Regions from separate parts of the Homo sapiens genome. Here region 1 is linked to region 2. Evidence: fine-mapped QTL for protein levels in blood plasma. Region 2 holds a variant in brackets. A gene starts in the other region. All regions are shown on their forward strands. Region 1 holds the start of TNFRSF4 (TNF receptor superfamily member 4). Region 2 overlaps BEND3 (BEN domain containing 3).

The links. A credible set is the group of variants that fine-mapping cannot tell apart. PIP is the chance, under the fine-mapping model, that this variant and not a neighbour inherited with it causes the effect. The UK Biobank Pharma Proteomics Project read protein levels with antibody pairs (Olink). The fine-mapping took linkage between variants from a reference panel, not from the people measured, so its PIPs are less certain.
Region 1: it holds the start of TNFRSF4, and the variant in region 2 is the best candidate, but not a certain one, in a credible set for the plasma level of the TNFRSF4 protein (UK Biobank, PIP 0.86).

Annotation. Positions count from the first base shown.
Region 1 is chr1:1,204,836-1,214,499 of GRCh38, forward strand. TNFRSF4 (TNF receptor superfamily member 4) reads right to left here and starts at 9,318. Exons shown (of 7, transcript NM_003327.4): 1 at 9,148-9,318; 2 at 8,828-8,950; 3 at 8,157-8,258; 4 at 7,803-7,869; 5 at 7,107-7,303; 6 at 6,869-6,997; 7 at 6,505-6,790. The coding sequence starts at 9,292. The coding sequence ends at 6,720. TNFRSF18 (TNF receptor superfamily member 18) reads right to left here and starts at 1,757. Exons shown (of 5, transcript NM_004195.3): 1 at 1,550-1,757; 2 at 535-657. The coding sequence starts at 1,736. RefSeq lists silencers at 340-540, 3,413-3,502, 4,083-4,192, 8,396-8,445 and an enhancer at 3,337-4,216.
Region 2 is chr6:107,094,709-107,104,524 of GRCh38, forward strand. It overlaps BEND3 (BEN domain containing 3), which reads right to left. Exons shown (of 4, transcript NM_001367314.1): 2 at 4,541-4,588; 3 at 3,843-4,045. The coding sequence starts at 4,577. Among named protein-coding and RNA genes, the nearest start is that of BEND3, 16 kb to the right of the region's middle. The variant A/C (reference allele first, on the strand shown) is at 4,604.

The sequences.
Region 1 (9,664 bases), not on the chromosome of region 2:
GAGAGTGAGGCTGGGTCCCAGTTGACCCCAGACCCTGCCCCGTCCAACCTGACACAACCTCCCCAGTTGTACCTTCTCCCAGCTCTCATGTGCCCAGCCTGACCTCTCCTGTCAGGTAAACAAGCCGCTAAGAGGACTTGAGCTGCTCCTTCCAGAACAGGGTGCAGCCCCAGGCCCCAGACAGGACTCCGGGGGGCACAGGGCAGGCTCTTTCAGTATGTGGTGAGGACAGACAGGATGGGTGTCCCGGGCCTGAGAGCCAGACAGCTCCTGGAACCCGCCCCCACCTCCCCGCAGGGTTCTCACAGCCCTCGTGCTGGATGGAGAAGCCCAGGCTGAGAAAGCAGGGACAGGACACCCCCAGAGCTTCATGGCCTGTGGTGCCTGAGCATGGCCTGGCCTGCCCGGCCTCACAGGACTCCGGACCCCACACACCACATGTCCTCGCCGGACACCTGTGCCCACGAGCTCTGCCTCGGGCCCTAGTGGAACCCCTGGCCTGTGTGGACTCCCAGAGGCACCTCCAGGACTTACCCTGGGACTGTACCCCCTGGCCTGGGGGACAAGGGTGGTGCCGGCAGGTCGTGCAGCAAGGGTCTCCGCAGTGGAATTCAGGCTGGACACACATGCAGTCCCACTCGGAACAGCACTCCTCGCCTGGGCAGGAGACAGGCCAGCCCCCCAGCAGCTGGGCTGAGGCCCCCTCCTCCCCAGGCCTCCCCTCGGCCCTCCAGGGGAGTGAGGTTGTCCGTTCTCCACCCACAGTTGGCTCCAGGGAGCAGAGGGCTCCTGGCTGGGAGTCTGGACCCTGGGTTTATCCAGCTGTCTCTTTCTCCTGGGGCCATGTGGCCTGGCTACTCCCCCTTTGCGCCCCACAGCTGCCCCTGCCCAGGTGCTAACTCCATATGCAACCAGGAGCTGCCCCTGCAGGACCCAGGGGTGGCCCCCAACAGTGCACAGTCCCCTGGAGGCCCGTCGACACCTCAGAGGCCGCCTGCCTGGTGTCTGGGCGCTGCTGTCCCCACCACCAGCCACACTGGGCCTCCGGACAGAGCCTCCCTTCCCAACCCACAGGCCCTGGAGGAAGAAGCTCTGGGGTGACTTCCCTGCCAGCTTCCTCTCCAGACCAGCCGTGTCAGCTGAACCCTCATCCCCAGGTGCAGGTCAGAGGCAGGCAGCAGGCCAGACGGTGGTGCAGGGGGGCCCTCAACTGGGCAGGAGGGGGCTGGGCGATGGCCAAGGGCTCACGACCCGCCCAGCAGGACCTGGAACAGCCGTCCTCCACCTCCAGACCCCAGACCCCTCTTGAGGGCGCTCCCACCTGGCTCACCCCTGCTCCCGGCCGGGGCCACTGGCTGGAGCTGGCACACCTCCGCCTCCCTCTGGGATCCTGCCTCCCTCCGGAAGGCTCCCGCTGCTGGCGGCTCTGTGCCCACCCTCCTTAGACCTCAGCAACGCCGGTCTGAGCACGGGAAGGGGGGCGCCCACCCATCCCGGCTTCCGCGGGACGCCTTGGCCGGTCCGCGTTAAGTAAACGCGGTTTACTTACCCGGGTAATCGCGGCAGCAGCGCGTCGTGTGAACCCGGCAGCAGCGCGCGTCCGTTCCCGTCCCAAGCAGGAGGCGCCCAGGGCCGCACCCGGGACCCCCGGTGGGGCGCTGACCCAGGCTGAGCGCGCACAGCAGCGCCAGGCCGCACAGGGCCCGAAACGCGCCCATCGCCCCGTGCTGTGCCATGCTCGGGTTTCAAGAGCCCACAGCCAGTTGGACACGCCCCGTCCCCGTCCTCACCCGCCCTGCCCGGAGGTGGCTGGGACCGTTCATGACCTGAGAATCCCGACCCAGGTGAAGTGCGTGTGAGGAGGGGGTGTAGACACTGCGGACACAGCCCGGTCCCCCGCAGGTCGCCGGCAGGGGCGGGGAAACCAGGCTGGCGGGGATCAGAAAGGTTTTCTATGCAAAGTCTGCGGCCACATTGGTGTCCCCAGTGCAGGGGGCGGCGTTTATAGCACCTTGTCCCATGGGGGCCCCTTGGAGGGCGGGGGTCAGCCAATCACTCCTCCATCCCACTGCCTCCGGGTGGTATCTGCGAGTCCCCGAGAGGTCTCCACAAATTCTGGCCACCCCCAGAGAGCCTCAACCATGGAGCCCCGTGCTGGGGAACCCCACAGAATGGGGACAGGGACCCCTCGGCTCAGCACACCCCACCTGGCTGGCTTCAGGTGTGAAACTCACCATGGGCTGCAGGCCTGTGGGCTCCCCTCCCCCTTGCTTGCAGCTCTCCAGGACCCCCCTCAGGCCAACCTGGGAAGTTCCCCGGGGCTTGGGAGGGGCACCAGGAGGAGCTGGTGGGGAGACGAGAGGGTGCTGGCGCCTCCTCGGGACAGTGTCAGCCGCCCCCGCGGGCACCCAGGGCCCGGTCTCTCAGAGCCACCTTCATCCGTCACACCAGACAGATCCAGGTCCCGGAGGGAGTTGAGGAGGAGCCCCTCGCAGAGCTCTTGGGAGACTGTCCTATGTCTTTCTGAGCCTCAGTTTCCCCTGTGGGCACCGAGGGGTTCTGGGACCCTGCCTCCACCAGGAAGCCTCCCTGGATTGCCCAGCCCTGCTTCTGCGCCGTCCAGCACAGGTGGAGACCCCCATGAATGCTGGGGGTGGGGGCTCTCGGGAACGTGAGCGTGGATGTGGTTCAACACCCTTTTGAGACCTGCAGCCACCGCCTCACCCCGTAAGGCGGTTCCTCCTTTTCCAAGGTAAATGACAGGAATTAGCTGTTTGTGACACCCCGGAGTTCTCAAATCCAAGATGTAGGAGCCTGCCTTGGAGAGGCAGCCCTCAGACACTGCAGAGAAGGAAGGGGTCTCTGCAGCTCCAGGCCGCCCCGACGCTCGGAAGGAAAGGGGTGGGGCCAGCTGGGCCTGGGGGCCTTTGAGAGGCCTGGAGATCTTCAGCCCCGAGGCTGGGAGGGGGTCTGGGCCCCTGGATAGAAAGAGGCGCCATCAGTGGCTCACGCCCGTAATCCCAGCATTTTGGGAGGCCGAGGTGGGCCTCGGATCACCTGAGGTCAGGGGTTCGAGACCAGCCTGACCCACATGGAGAAAGCCCGTCTCTACTAAAAATACAAAAAAAATTAGCCAGGCGTGGTGGCGCACGCCTGTAATCCCAGCTACTCGGGAGGCTGAGGCAGGAGAATTGCTTGAACCTGGGAGGCAGAGGTTGCGGCGAACCAAGATGGCACCATTGCACTCCAGCCTGGGTGACAGAGCGAGACTCCATCACAAAAAATAAAGAATGCTCATCAGACCACACGGTGTGAGTCATCCATCTAGAGGCAGGGACAGAGTTAGAGGAGCGAGCAGTTTATGGGGCCAAGTGGGAGGCGGCCAGCGGGCAGAGGAGCCCCTCCCCCCCGCCCCGTGGCGCAGCTGACACTTTGAACAGCCGGAGAGCAGCTTGCCACACAGGGTGGTCCCCGGAGGGGCTGCAGGGGTGTGACGTCCACCCTCCCATCCCTCTCGCCGCAGAAGGCCCCTCCCCGGCTCCCCGTGACTCCTATCCTTGGGCTGCGAGGCTGGAGGTGACTTGTTCATCTTATTGAGCAGCTCACCGGTGACACAAATGACGGGGCATTCACACAGCAGAGCAGCCCACGGGCCGGGCGAGGGACAGCCCTTGCGTACGTCCAGAAGGGCAGCTGTGAGGCCCCACGGGGAGGGTGCAGATGGGCACTGAGCCAGAGTTCAGGCAGGGCCTTCGGCACAGATGGCACAGGAGTTGCCAGCAGAGATGGCGTCAGGCGAGGGGGCGGGGAGGGTGAGCATGGAGACCAAGAGGAGGTGGCCCCGTGTCCATCTGGGGGTGCGGCAAGGGGTCCTGCTGGGGAATAAGTCCCACGGGGCCTGGGGGGTGCTGTGCCCAGAGGGGAGGAGACAGGAAGCGATGGGTATGGGCGCCAGGTTTGGGGAGGAGGCCCCTTTCCCATAGCCGTCGACCTGCGGGCCCCACAGGATCTGGCCGCTCCAGTCCCGGCCACCTGACCCCTTCCCCCACCCACCCGCCATCCTGCCTGGAGGTCTGGCCTCGCCTGCCCCACGGGGCGGGGGGCGGGGGGCTCTCAGAGGCGCGGCCCCAACCCTGTGCAGGGCCTGCAGGCTGAACCGTGTGCAGGAACCCGGGGAACTCGGTGAAGGTGCTGGATGGGGGACAGGACGGCCTCTGACTTCCCTATGCTGCGGGGGGGGAGGCTTGTGGTTAGCAGAGAGTGGGTGGAAGACAGAGGTTTGAGGAGAGAGAGACCCAGGGGAGAAAACCAGCTGCAGAGGCAGGAGGGGTCCAGGGCAGCCCGAGGCCAGAGATGGGCGTCTTCCTTACAGCCACCTGTGGTCCCGGCACCTTGGGCTGTTGTGAGTGGCGCGTGGCGCTCCCACTGTGCACCCCCGGGGCCGGTTCCCCACTTCCACGACACCGGCAGGGGGGAGCCATCCGCCAGGCACAGGAGGCCTGGACAGCCGTGGGCAGCGTGCGCTGTTGGAGGACGCAGGGAGAGGGAAGGCTGGCCCAGGGACGCTGTGTGGGGCAGCGGGTGCAGCTGCGGGGCTGGGCCACACCAGCCACGGTAGCCGGAGTGTCCAGGCTGTGCCAGGCCCTCAGCAAAACCTTCCATGAGGCTTCATGTGTTTCTTCTTAAGTAATTTTTTTAAATTTCTTTTTTTTTTTCCAGTCACGTCTCACTGCAGCCTCCATCTCTTGGGCTCAAGTGATCCTCCCACCTCGGCCTCCCAAGTAGCCGGGACCACAGGCATGCACCACCACACCCGGCTGATTTTTTCTATTTTTCATAGAAAAGGGTCTTGCCATGTTACCCAGGCGGGTCTCAAACTCCTGAGCTCAGACGATCGTCTGGCCTCAGCCTCCCAAAGTGCTAGGATTCTAGGCGTGAGCCACCGTGACCGGCCTCGGCTGTGTGTTTCTTGCTCATGAGTGCAGTGAGGGCCAGGCGTGGTGGCTCACACCTGGAATCGCAGTACTCCAGGGCACCGAGGCAGGTGGATCACCTGAGGTCAGGAGTTCAAGACCAGCTTAGCCAACATGGTGAAACCCTGTCTCTAATAAAATACAAAAATTAGCCGGGTGTGGTGCTGGGCGCCTGTAGTCCCAGCTACTTGGGAGGCTGAGGCAGGAGAATGGCGTGAACCCGGGAGGCAGAGGTTGGTGAGCTGAGATCACACCACTGCACTCCAGCCTGGGTGACACAGCAAGACTCCGGCAAAAAAAAAAAAAGAAAGAAAAAACAAGTGCAGTGAGACGTCTTAGCCCTCGGGAGTGTTTCTCTTCAGCCCCTGACACCATGGAGGCGAACAGGCACCTCCGCCTCCCGAGGGACACAGATGTCGCTTAGACGCCCGGGGTGTCTTCCCTGCGGGAAGCCTGCAGGGCTGCTCCCGCCTTGTTCCCGAGCTGTGGCCTCGGGCGTGACTGGCGCTCGGGAGCAGGCTCTGTGCTGCTCGAAGGATACCCCACTCCCAGACACCAGCTTGAGAAGATTCCCGCACGGCCGGGGACGGCCCCAGGGCCTTGGGAGCGTCTGTGGACACCTGTGGTGTGGGCCGAGGAGCTGGGAGCTCATCTGAACACGCCAGCACTCGCGCATCCACGCTGCTGGCGGATGCCTGGGTTTCTCCACTGTGGGGCCACGTTACATGAAGTCGCTGTGGTCATTCTCATTCAGATCCCAGGACTCTTAAGTGCGCAGGAGTGGGACGGCCGGGGCCCAGGGTGGACAGAAAGTTGGCTCAAGCAGAAACTGTGGTTTCCAAGGTGACTGTCCCCCTGGACACCTATGGCAGGGACATAGGGGCCGTGTGGGCCCTTTGCAGGGACTCCTCGGGGTGCTCAGGGGCCCTGGGACCCCCTTCCAGGTGCAGCAAGGGGTGGGCGTAGGTGTGGAGGGGAAGAGGGGCAGGTCTCTACACTCCTCCTCCAAGGACACAGAGCCCCGGGGGTCAGCCACTCCCAAGCTCCTTGGGCAACCCGGGGCTCAGGGGCCAGCTGCCCTTGTCAGCGCCTGGCCAGGAACCTCCACCCCAGGCAGCCTTGGGCCTGAGCTTTCCCAGTCTCTCCCCCCGCTCCCCACTCAATCTGGAACTCGCACCCAGGGACCAACCTCCAGGGTCCCACTTGACCCCGCTACCCTCACCTCCACCCTGGCCCAAGACCCCTCTCCAGCCACAGGTTGGCACAGCCCAAGTCTCCCAAGACCCCTCTCCAGCCACAGGTTGGCACGGCCCAAGTCTCCCAAGACCCCTTTCCAGCCACAGGTTGGCACGGCCCAAGTCTCCCAAGACCCCTCTCCAGCCAGAGGCGGGCACGGCCCAAGCCTCCCAAGACCCCTGTCCAGCCAGAGGCGGGCACGGCCCAAGCCTCCCAAGACCCCTCTCCAGTCAGAGGCGGGCACGGCCCAAGCCTCCATGCCACAGGTGTGCAGCCCACAGTGCCGGTCGGAGACTCCCGTCTGCCAAGGTTTTTATTGTGGTCCCGCGGGGCAGGAGGTATGCATGGCATACGTAAGCAGAGAGCCGGAGGCAGCCATCGGCACCTAGAACGGTGCAGAGTTGGCCCAGGAGCGTGGCGGGGCAGGCGGCCTGCACCTGCCCTGCTCGCCCAGCAGACCCTCCGGGCTCCAGCCTGGCGGGGCCCAGCGTCCACCTTGGTGGGCCCAGGTCAGATCTTGGCCAGGGTGGAGTGGGCGTCGGCCTGCTCCTCTTGGATGGGGGTCCGGAAACTGCCTCCCCCTGGGGAGGAAAAAAGGAGAGATTGGTGGGTGGGCCTCACCCGCCAGGAGCAGTGCGGCAGGGCCATGAGGCACTCACCAGGGGGCTTGTGGGCATCGGGGGGCAGCCTCTGGTCCCTCCGGAGCAGGTACAGGGCCAGCAGGATGGCCAGGGGGCCCAGCAGCCCCAGCACCAGGCCCAGGCCCAGGATGGCGGCAACCGCACGGCCTGCAGGAAGGGGTCTGCTGGGTGGGGTCCACAGGAGGGGCCCCCATGCCGCCCTCCCCTTCTCCTATTCGGGTTGGGGGCCCCGCTGGGCTGGGCCAGGCGCCCTTACCCCCGGGGACCTCCACGGGCCGGGTGGAGGGTCCCTGTGAGGTTCTGGGCCAGGCTTCAGTGGGCTGGACAGTGATGGGCCTGGCCGGGGGGCCCTGGGTCTCCTGGGGCTGCGTGGCTGGGGGGTCCCTGTCCTCACAGATTGCGTCCGAGCTATTGCTGGCCGGCTGCAGGGTGTGCTTCCCAGCCAAGGTGCAGCTGTTGGGGAACAGGAGGTGTTGCTCAGGCCAGAAACCCCCTGGGACCCGGGAGATGCGGTGGGGATAACAGGGTCCACGCTGGCCAGCCACAGGCAGCATCTACCACAGACACCAGGCCAGTGACAGCCAAGGACGCTGCCCAGCCCCACGTGCCCCCCACAGGGGCCTCCAAGGCCACACACCCTTCTCCCACATCTACACCCCCCACCAGCACCTCCCTGTCCTGTGCCCCCAGGGCCTCCCAGCTGCGGAGGGTGAGGGTCCCACACACCCAGCTCCACCCACAGGGAAAGGCTGCCCCCAGGCAGCAGCTTCCTGCTCCCCAACCAGGTCCAGCCACATAGCCAGGCCCCCAGGGCCACCAGCACCTCCCCTTCCCCCAAAACTGCCCCCACCCCACCTGCCCCCCCAGCCCCTCCCAGCTCCCCAGCTCCTCCGCCCTCCTAACCACCCCAACCCCCCCCCAGCCCCTCCCAGCCCCTGGCCAGGCCCCTCACTTGGTCCAGGGCTTGCAGGCCTGGTTGTCGCCTGGGGAGAAGTGCCCTGGAGGGCAGGGGGCACAGTCTGCAACAAAGATAGGGTGGTCAGGGGCTGCCCACAGGCCCCGGGTGCTGGGGACATGGGGCAGAGCCTGTGGGGCAGGCACTTGCCCCCCATGGCTGGGTGGTGGGTTTGGCCTCTGGAAGCCCTCCCTGCCCACATCCCACCCGTGGGCCCTGACCCGGGAGCTCGGTCTTGAGGATGCCAGAGGAGGCACCGGTGGGGCCAGGTCCCTGCGGCCCACGGCCCATCTGCGTCACAGACAGCCGCTATGCACACCCCCAACCGCCGGCCGCAGCCACCGAGCTCACCAACTCCAGGCTTGTAGCTGTCCAGGGGCTGGGTGCCCGCCCGGCAGCGGCAGACTGTGTCCTGTGTGGCCGTGCACAGCTGCTTCCGCTCACTCCCACTTCCTGAGCAGGGGCCGGATGGGGGGGTGGTCAGGTGGGGGCTGTGGACAGGGTCCTCAGGAAGCGTGGGCACTGGAGGACAGGTTGGCCTCCCCACCACACAGAGGGCCGTGGGCAGGGGTCTGCGGCCTCCCCTGAGACTTGGAGCCCCTGCAGCCCCCGAGGCTCCTGGGCCCTCCCTTCCTGGCCACAACCTGGGGCTGGTTCCGTGGCAGCCCCAGCCACCCTTCCCTACCCCTCCACCGCCTCCAGCCGCCAGCCCCGCCTGCGGCAGGGTCTCCATGGCCCAACCCCCCAGCCTCACTGCTCAGGCCAGCAAGGCCAGGCCACATGGCCAGCGTGGTCTCCCCGACTCCACGTGGCCTGGGCCGAGTCTGGGCCCCCGGAGGGAGAGGGGGTGCCCCTGGGAGACGCCTCAGCTCCTCGAAGGACCCCTGTGGCGGAGCAGACCCCGCTGTGGTTTGAGGTTCGTTTCTGCGGCTGTGGGAGCCCCATGCTGCTGCGTGGGAATGTGGGTGCCAGGCTGCCGCCCCCTGTGCTGGGTGGGGCTGTGGGGCCAGGTGGGAGCTCACTGAGGTTACACCACGTGCAGGGCTTGCACGGCTTGGAGCTGACCACGTCGTTGTAGAAGCCCGGCCCGCACGGACGGCACACCGTGTTCTGGGAGCGGCTGCAGCGGCTCACCATCCCGTTGCCTGCAGCAGAGGCCGGCGTCAGGCAGCGGTCAGGCCCCAGGCTTGCGCCCGTGGACCCCCCCAGGCGGCTCCTCTGCCAGGCTTGGCCGGCCCCTCACCCGCCCCCTCCCCAGGACCAGCCTCCTGGCTGGCCCATCCCTGCCCCAGCCCCCAGTCCCTGGAGTGCCCGTGCGTGGCGACCCCTCCTGAGGCCTCACCTGGCCTGCACTCGTGGCAGCACCGGTCGTTGCTGGGGTAGGTGTCCCCGACACAGTGGAGCCCCGTCACGGTGCTCAGCCCCAGGCCCAGGAGGAGCAGAGCCGCACACGGCCCGCGGCCCAGCCGCCGAGCCCCCACGCACATCCTCGTCTCTGCTGTCGCCAGAGTCTGGGTTTTCCTTGCGGGGTGTGGCTATAAGGACTGTGGAGGAGGGGAGGGGAGAGGGGAGGAGGGCAGAGGAGGCGGGAGGAGGAAGGTGGCAGGCCGGGGACCCTGGCTGTGGGCTGGGCACAAAGGCGGGGTCTGGGCACCCCCAGCATTGGCTTATTCTGCCTTCTGACCTCTTCTGCCCAAGACCACCGTGTTCAGACCCCAGGGCACAGTAGGGCCTGGCCTGCGGCTCGACCCTCAGCAAAAAGGTCCATGGAGCACGTGGGTAAACTGAGGCAGCACTGAGTCAGGAGAGGCAACTCCTCAGTCTGGACCTTCAGGGCTGTGGCACTGCTGAAGCATGGT
Region 2 (9,816 bases):
CCAGGCATGGTGCTGCCATGCCTGTAGTCCCAGCTACTTGGGAGTCTGAAAGAGGAGGATCCCTTGAGCCCAGGAGTTTGAGATTACAGTGAGCTGACTATGTCACTGCCTTTTTTTTTTTTTTTTTTTTGAGACAGGGTCTCACTCTGTCACCCAGACTGGAGTGCAGTGACACAACCATGGTTCACGGCAGCCCCGACCTCCCAGGCTCAGGCGATCCTCCCACCGCAGCCTCCCGAGTAGCTGGGACTACAGGTGTGTGCCACCACGCCTGGATAATTTTTTTGTATTTTTTGTAGAGACAAGGTTTTGCCATATTGCCCAGGCTGATCTGGAACTCCTGGACTCAAGCAATCCACCTGCCTCAGCCTCCCAAGATGCAAGGATTACAGGTGTTAAACCACCACACCTAGCTGTGCCACTGCTTTTGCACTCCACCCTGGCAACAGAGAGAACCTGTCTCAAACAACAACAATAACATAAACAAAAACACAACTGCTGGGCACAGTGGCTCATGCCTGTAATCCCAACACTTTGGGAGGCTGAGGCAAGAGGATCGCTTGAGGCCAGGAGGTCAAGAATAGCCTGGGCAACATAGTGAGACCACCTTCATCTCTGCAAAAAAAAAATTTTTTTTAAACTAAACAAAGAAAAAAACCAAGATACTACCACATACCTATTAGAATGGTCAAAATCCGAACACTGACAACAGCAAATGCTTTCAAGGATGTGGAGCAAGAGGAACTTGTTAGTGGGACTGTAAAATGGTCCAGCCACTTTGGAAGGCAGTTTGGTAGTTTTTTACCAAACTAAACATAATCACACTCCTCGGTGTTTATCCAAAGGAGCTGAAAACTTATGTCCACATGAAAACCTATACATGGATGTTTATAGCAGCATTATTCATAATTGCCAAAACTTGGAAGCATCCAAGATGTCCTTTAGTAGGTAAATGAATAAATAAACTCTGGTACATCTGGGCAATAGAATATGATTCAGTGCTAAAAGAAAATGAGCTATTAAGCCATGAAAAGACATGGAGGAAACTCAAATGCATATTGCTAAGTATAATAAACCAATCTAAAAAGGCTACACATTGTATGATTCCAACTTCACGACATTCTGGAAAAGATAAAAGTATGGAGATGGTAAAGAGATCAGTGGTTGCTGGGGGTTATGTGGGAGTGAAGGATGAACAGATAGAGCATAACAGATTTTTAGGACAGCAAAACTACTCTGTATGATACTACAAATGGTATATACATTTGTCCAAACCCACAGACTATACAATAGCAAGAGTGAGCCCTAATGTAAACTACTGACTTTGGGCAATAATGTGTCAATGGGGGATCATCAGTTGTAATAAATGCATCAATCTGGTATACAATGTTGACAATGGGGGAGGTTATAAACATGCAGGGGTAAGGAAGTATATGGGAAATCTGTCTCTTTTGCTCAATTTTTCTGTAAACCTAAAACTGCTCTATAAAATAAAGTCTGTTAAAACAAAAAGAAATGAAGTACTGATACATAGATGATGAACCTTGAAAACATTATGCTAAGAAGCCAGACACATATGGCCATAGAACATATGATTACATTACATGAAATGCCTAGAATTGGCCGGGCATAGTGACTCACGCCTGTAATCCCAGCAATCTGGAAGGCCGAGGCGAGTGAATTACGTGAGGTCAGGAGTTTGAGACCAGCCTGGCCAACATAGTGAAACCCTGTCTCTACTAAAAATACAAAAATTAGCCAGGCGTGGTGGTGCCCACCTGTAATCCCAGCTACTCGGGAGGATGAGGCAGGAGAATCGCTTGAACAAGGAGACAGAGGCTGCAGTGAGCTGAGCTCATGACACTGCACTCCAAGCCTGGGCCACACAGCGAGACTCCATCCATCCATCAATCAATCAATCAATTAAAAATAAAAATGAAATGCCCACAATAGGCAAATCCTTAGAAAGTACATTAGTGATTGTCAGTAGCTGGAAAAGTAGGGAATGAGGAGCTACTGCTAATGGGCAGGGACTCTTTGTAAGGTTATAAAAATGTCCTAAAATAGCATAACTCTGGGAATATACTAAAAACCATTAAACTAGGGCTGAGCGCGGTGACTCATGCTTGTAATCCCAGCACTTTGGGAGGCCAAGACAGGCAGACCACTTGAGGTCTGGAGTTTGAGACCAGCCTGGACCAACACTGCAGATGTTGCAGTGAGCTGAGATTGCGCCACTGCATTCCAGCCTGGGCGACAGAGCGAGACCCTGTCTCAGACAAAAACAAACAAACAAACAAACAAAAACATTAAATTATATAACTTAAATTGGTGAAAGGTATAGTATGTGAATTATATCTTAATAAAGTTGTTTTGGGCCTGATGCAGTGGCTCACACCTGTAATCCGAACACTTTGGGAGGCTGAGGCAGGCGGATCACCTGAGGTCAGGAGATTGAGACCAGCCTGACCAACATGAAGAAACCCTGTCTCTACTAAAAATACAAAAATTAGCCGGGCGTGGTGGCACACGCTTATAATCCCAGCTACTCGGGAGGCTGAGGCAGGAGAATTGCTTGAACCCAGGAGGCGGAGGTTGCGGTAAGCCAAGATCGCGCCATTGCACTCCAGCCTGGGCAACAAGAGTGAAACTCTGTCTCAAAGATGAAAAAAAAAAAATTAAAGCCCAAATAAATTAGAGAAACAAGTTGTTTAAAAAAGAAAAGCCATTCAGACCAGAATAAAGAGTTAGAAAAAAAAAACCCTGAATAAATAAAATAGTAAATAAAAGTATCACTCATGGCCAGGCACAGTGGCTCACACCTGTAATCCCAGCACTTTGGGAGGCCAAGGCAGGCAGATCACCTGAGGTCGGGAGTTCAAGACCAGCTTGGCCAACATGGAGAAACCCTGTATCTACTAAAAATACAAAATTAGCTGGGCATGGTGGCGCATGCCTGTAATCTCAGCTTCTCGGGAGGCTGAGGTAGGAGAATCGCTTGAACCTAGGAGGCAGAGGTTGCTGTGAGCTGAGATTGCGCCACTGCACTCCAGCCTGGGCAAGAACAGCAAAACTCCGTCTCAAAAAAAAAAAAAAAAAAAAAAAAACCCCAACAAACCTATCACTCAGTGTTCCATGATGTGGAATGTAGGTCCTCACTATAAACATGTATATTTAAATCTTGGTTAAAATCTTAGTCTCATCATTATGCAAATTAAAGCCTAACCAAATCCCTAAAATGTATAACTTCCTAATTTGTTTGGATCTGCCCTAACATCCAACAGGGGAGAGTTAAAACAAACCAATTAAACAAAGAGTTGGCTGTGCACTATGGCTCACGCCTGTAATCCCAGCACTTTGGGAGGCCAAGTCAGGAGGATCACTTGAGGCCAGGAGTTCAAGACCAGCCTGGGCAACATAGTGAGATCCAGTCTCTATTTAAATAAGTGAATGATAGATTTAATTTAGGAAAAGACCTGACCTCCAGCTAATGCCCCACTTTTGCAAGAATCAGCTACTATGTCAAGTGTGGTAGGCTTACGTTAACCGTCCTCACTATCAGCAAGCTCCTGCTTTCCCCCACAAAGCACAGCAAAATAACGCAAAAGCAGCTGCAATGTGAAGGCTCCCTTTACCCACCAGGAATCCCAACACAAACAAGAATTCCAGTTAAAGACAGACACTTTCGAGAAACTGAAGCCAGAGATGGGATAGCTTAAATGAAACCTTCCCATGCCCAAGGGTTCAGCAGTTGCCAGGATGCCCAAAACAAGAGGGAGATTCAGCATGGAATCAGAGAGGGTTAGAGCCCAAGCAAAGAGTGACAGCAGCTAGGCCCTCACCTCGGGGATCAGCCGCCTCCTCTTCACGCCGGGGACAGAGTCTAGCAGGCCATCGCTGACCAGCTGCTTTCGTTTGCTGGAGTCCTGCAGGGCAGTGAGGACGCTGTCCACAGAGTGCTTCTCAGAAGTCCTGGAATTCACGGAGCAGTCCAGAGCAGCATCTTCAGCCTCTGTCTCCACTTTCACAGTGATACTTTTTAGAACTGTGTCAGAGAAGAAATAGGGCTCAGTGGGAAAAACCAGGGCTGCTCAGAGATCAGCAGGGTTCTCTGAGCAGCAGGGTGTCTGTGGGCCGCCCTTTGACACCAGTGCTGAGATAATGATGTCTAGTTGTAACAAACCTGAGCTTTCCAACGATGCAATCTTTATCTCACCGCACTAGTGCTGTACAATAAAGCCATGTTCCAAGAGCATTTAGTTCAAATTGGTTTAAACATCTTTTTTTGGGGGGGAAGACAGTGGAAGGAGAGACATAAAATATTATCTTTTTGTGCTTTAAAAAAGTAATTTTTAAAAAGTGACACAAGGTGCTTATAACAAGTGTGTGGGTGGAGGGGGATGGGAACCGGGGAACAAGTGTGTGGGTGGAGGGGACTTTTCACTATATAACTTTGTATATTTTTGGACCATGTGAATGTATGACCTGATCAAAAGTATTCAGTTAAAAACATTTTTCAAAAAGGGCATTTTTTTTTTACCTTCTTCTACATCTTCGGTGAATTCAGTTGAGTTCATCTTCTATTCCGCTAAATAAAAAGACA[A/C]AGACAATGTGTTGACTTATTGCTTGATTTATTTCTTAATTTTCTCTACCCACAGAAAATCCTCTTACCCTCCCAACCCCAGCTCTAGGTAACAGAGCAGCACAGCACTGTGGAAGCTATGTGTCCTCCTAATCTTGTCTGCAGACACTCAGGAGCAGCCAGGCCTTGTGCATCCCTGCTGGGAGCTCTTCTCCAAGACTTTATGTGAGCAGAATGTGTCTTACAGCATCCACTGATAGCCACTTACTGAGCCATGGGAACATTACAAGAACAAATCAACTCTTAAAAAAGACCCCAATTTTAATTATCTCTTTTAAGTCCATGCTTATAAATTCCAGCCACAAAACAAATAGGCTGAAGGATGGGGGCCATGGATCCTGAAATCTTAGGACTTACGGTTGTCAAGAGAACTGTGCTGCCCATGACCTGAAGGTGGCTACTAGCCACACCTGGCTACCAAGGACTCAAAATGTGGCTAGTCCAATGGAGATGTGCTATAAGTGTAAAATACACACCAAATCTCAGACTTAGTAACAGAAATGCAAAATATCTCACTAGTAATTTTTTTTTTTTTAGAGGAAAGGTCTCACTCTTTTCACCCTGGCTGGAGTACAGTAGCACTATCATGGCTCATTGCAGCCTCTGATTCCTGGGCTCTAGCAATCCTCCTGCCTCAGCCTCTAGAATGGCTAGGACTACAGGTACCACATGCCGCCACCCACAGCTAATTAAAAAATTTTTTTGTAGAGATGCGGTTTCACTATGTTGACCAGGCTGCTCTTGAACTCCTCAAGCGATCCTTCCACCTTGGCCTCCCAAAGTGCTGGGATTACACATCTGAGCCACAGTGCCCAGTCCTAATAATTGCTTTATATTGATTACATGTTGAAATGATAATATTTTGGACTTACTGGGCTAAATACAATACTTTATTTCATTTATTTGTTTATGAAACGGAATCTTGCTTTGTCACCAGGCTGGAGTGCAGTGGCGCAATCTTGGCTCACTGCAACCTCCGCCTCCTGGGTTCAAGTGATTCTCCTGCCTCTGCCTCCAAGTGATTCTCCTGCCTCTGCCTCCCGAGTAGCTGGGACTACAGGCATAAGCCACCACTCCCGGCTAATTTTTTGTATTTTTAGTAGAGACAGGGTTTCATCGTGTTAGCCAGGATGGTCTCGATCTCCTGACCTCATGATCCGCCCACCTCAGCCTCCCAAAGTGCTGGGATTAGAGGTGTGAGCCATTGTGCCCAGCCTAAGCTTCATTAGAAAGGTGGGCAGTGCTCTGTTCCAGGCTGCAGGGTCTGAAGCAAAACCTGCCTGCCTCAGCTGGAATGGAACTGACACCATGAGGCAAAGCACCACTAAAACAAAACAAACAAAATTACCACTAAGTCTCTGATATCTCCGAATACCATGACAGCATGTACATAAATAGTACAAGATACAAAGGTAGTAACATTTGGAGAATATACATTGCAATCTTTAATGTTGACACTTGGGAGTTGTGATCCCCACAACTGATTAAGCTGACTACAAACACAGAGTTCTCATTTTGGTTGAGGATGAGTGGAGAGCAGGACCAAGAAGTATCTCTTAAGAAATTTCTGGCCGGGAATGGTGGCTCGTGCCTGTAATCCCAGCACTTTGGGAGGCTGGGGTGGGCGAATCACCTGGGGTCAGAAGTTCAACACCAGCCTGGCCAACATGGTGAAACCCCATCTGTACTAAAAATACAAAAATTAGCTGGGCATGGTGGCACACGCCTATAGTCCCAGCTACTTGGGAGACTGAGGCAGGAGAACTGCTTGAACCCGGGAGGCAGAGGTTGCAGTGAGCCAAGATCACACCACTATACCCCAGCCTGGGTGACAGAGTGAGACTCTGTCTCAAAAAAAAAGAAAGAAACTCTGTAAGCATGAAGCCATCTAAAATGTTCAGTGAACCATTCAAGGAGTAGCCACAGAATGGTGTGTGTTTGACATACAGTACCTGTTTTAGACAGGTGAATGGGGTGGGGATGGCAGCAAGAGGGAGAGTGTGTCTGGGTGATCCATGAGCACAATCATCACTGCAAAGGTTACTAATAATGGCAACACATACAGTGCTTATGATGTGAAGCACTATTTTTAGTTCAAGAACAGTGCACAATAGTGCAAGACAGGCACAATTCTTTTCATCCCTGTATTGCTAATTTTCAGAGGAATGAAAACCAAAATGAGATTTGAAACTGAAAATAATTCCTACTCACCAAGCCATCTCCTACCTGAAAAAACATTACACACAGGGTGATATTGACAGAAAACAAATAATAAGTCAACTTCAAGGGTCCGAGAACTATTTTACCAGAGTCAAATTTTAGCAACTCCTTCCACTGTATTTCAAGGAACTACACCTCACTTTGGATCGCCATCATCTGAGCTGGGTGTCTCTGAGTGGCTAGAAGGGCTGGACAATGCCAGGCAGAAATTCAAGACCGGATTCCCAGCCTGGTAGGAGGCCTCTCAAGGAAACACACTGCAGGTCACCTGAATGCCCCTGCCCTTGGAAACTGCCATGGTCACATAACCCATTCCTGCCAATCAAGGGGAGTTCTGAGATGCAGAACAGATGGGGCAAAACGATGGCTGTCAGAGGCGGACATACTTTACAAAACAAATTACATTTGGCAGAGAAAAGGCAGAGAGGGAGGAGACAGCGGTTGGTTTATTTGGGGAGGAAAAGGGTCATGGTGAAAGAAAAATTGCAAAGAGTCAAAGATTCTGGTAAGTGGAAAGCACTAAAAGGATGGGCAAATACTAGAACAAAACAAAACAGGCGTCGATGAGAGAACACAGCAGACAGGGCCATGGGTGGTGAGAAGGGCAGTCTATTTATCTGCCATTATATTCGCCCAACCATGTGTCTCTGGCAGGCCCATCACATAGGGAGCAGTGCAGGGCTGGAGTCCAGGCTGCCACATGGAGCCTGCCGGGAATGTGGCTTGGTGAGCAGAAAACCTATTTTCTGATTTTTTATTTTTCCTTGTTTCCAGTGGGGTTGGAAGGAGGCTATTTTCTGAACCACCACCATGTGACCCTACAGCAGGCAATTTGGCCTCTGAATTTTGAGCCCCTATAAAGTGATGAAGGAAGAGCACACATCTCAGCCACCTGCAGTGGGCAGAAACCCCAGAGGGCTCATGCAGCTGAGGTGGGAGGAAGGGGTGCTGGTGCGGCTGCCTGGGCATTCAAGACACCGAGTGCTTGTGCTTTGGAAAACACTTCCGTGTCCATTTATAGACTAGTGACAGATGCTAGGTTAGCCCAGAAGTAGCCCAGAACACAGCATGGTGGGCCCCTTCCCTCCGGGCCAGCAAATCAGCTTCACTCATTAAGAAGCTGGGGAATCTCCCATTTGCAAGGCCTGGAAACCTCGCGCCTGCCCCTGGCTTGCGCAGTGGGGAGTGAGGTGAGCATCCCCTGTAACATCTGCAGCCCACCAACTTCACACCAGGCACTGGGCTGGCCACTGCATGTGTGCCTGTGCCTCACCCTGAGCTATTTTAGTTCCAATTTCAACAAATAGAGAAACCCAGGACAGGTAACTCCTCCAGTGTCACATCACTGAGTGGCAGAACCTGGCTTCAAATCGAGTCTTTCTGTGCCTTCCCTCAGCCAGCCAGGGAGGAAATAATAGAGTCTTCATTCTTTTGTTAAGCTTCTTCTGATGAACCATGGGCCTGTTTCCAAATTTGAGTCCCTCTGTCCAACAGCACCAGGAAACCACATCTCCTTCTGCCTCCATTAGCACTCTGGAAAGTCAGTCTGCTCCGTGCGTAGAAACAGACTCCACCCCACAATACAGAAAAGCTTCTACAAGAGAGATGTGTAGGCCACTCCCTGCATCCCCAGCTGGCGCAGGGACAGCACACCAACAATGTCACAGCTGGGCAGAAAGGGGATGGGGAGCACACTGCTACCTCCATTTCCTGGTCACCTGCCCAGATGAGGGTCACAAGCTCTGCTCCTCCTGGGTGGACACCCAGCACCCAGATGCCTAGCATGCCACAGACATTCCTCTCGCCTACCTGACTATAGGCTACGTAGGCGCTGCCACAACTACCCAACCACCACAGCACCCACCTCCTAAAGGCTGCTGTGAGCATTCCCTTTGCCTCCTGGACTCTGGAGAACTTCTCATTCTGACATTCTCTCATTTTCAAAATGTTCTCATGCCTCCCACCATAAACCTCAAATTATGGGACAGTCAACACATCCACACGTTCCCCAAAATCAACTTTCTCCCCAAGGGATGTCTGTTCTATGTCCCTCAGACAGCTGAGCTAAGCCTAGGAAAAAAGAAAAAGAAAAAAGAGGCCAGGCACGGTGGCACACGCCTGTAATCCCAGGACTTTGGGAGGCCAAGGCGGGCGGATCACCTGAGGATGGGAGTTGGAGACCAGCCTGACCAACATGCAGAAACCCCATCTCTACTAAAAATACAAAATTAGCTGGGCATGGTGGCGCGTGCCTGTAATCCCAGCTACTCAGGAGGCTGAGGCAGGAGAATCGCTTGAATCCGGGAGGCGGAGGTTGTGAGGAGCCGAGATCGCGCCATTCAACGCCAGGCTAGGCAACAAGAGCGAAACTCCGTCTCAAAAAAAAAAAAAAGAAAGAAAGAAAGAAAGAAAGAAAGAAAAAACAAAGAAAAAAGAGAAGGCCGGGCGTGGTAGCTCACACCTGTAACCCCAGCACTTTGGAGGCGGGCAGATCACGAGGTCAGGAGATGGAGACCATCCTGGCTAACACGGTGAAACCCCATCTCTACTAAAAAAAATACAAAAAAAAATTAGCCAGGCGTGGTGGCGGGCGCCCATAGTCCCAGCTACTCGGGAGGCTGAGGCAGGAGAATGGCATGAACCCAGGAGGCAGAGCCTGCAGTGAGCCGAGATCGCGCCACTGCACTCCAGCCTGGGCGACAGAGCGAGACTCCGTCTCAAAAAAAAAAAAAAAAAAAGGAAGAACCACATCACAAAGAGATAGGCTGGAAAGAGTTACACACTACAGGACACTTCATCTTTTTAGTGTTCATTTTAAGAGGGAAGATACATAATGTGGCTTTTCCCCATTTTTTACCAGGTAATATAGTCATGCCTTAGTATCCTCAGGGGGTTGGTTCCAAGACTCCCAGTGACACCCAAATCCACAGATGTTCAAGTCCCTGATAAAAAAT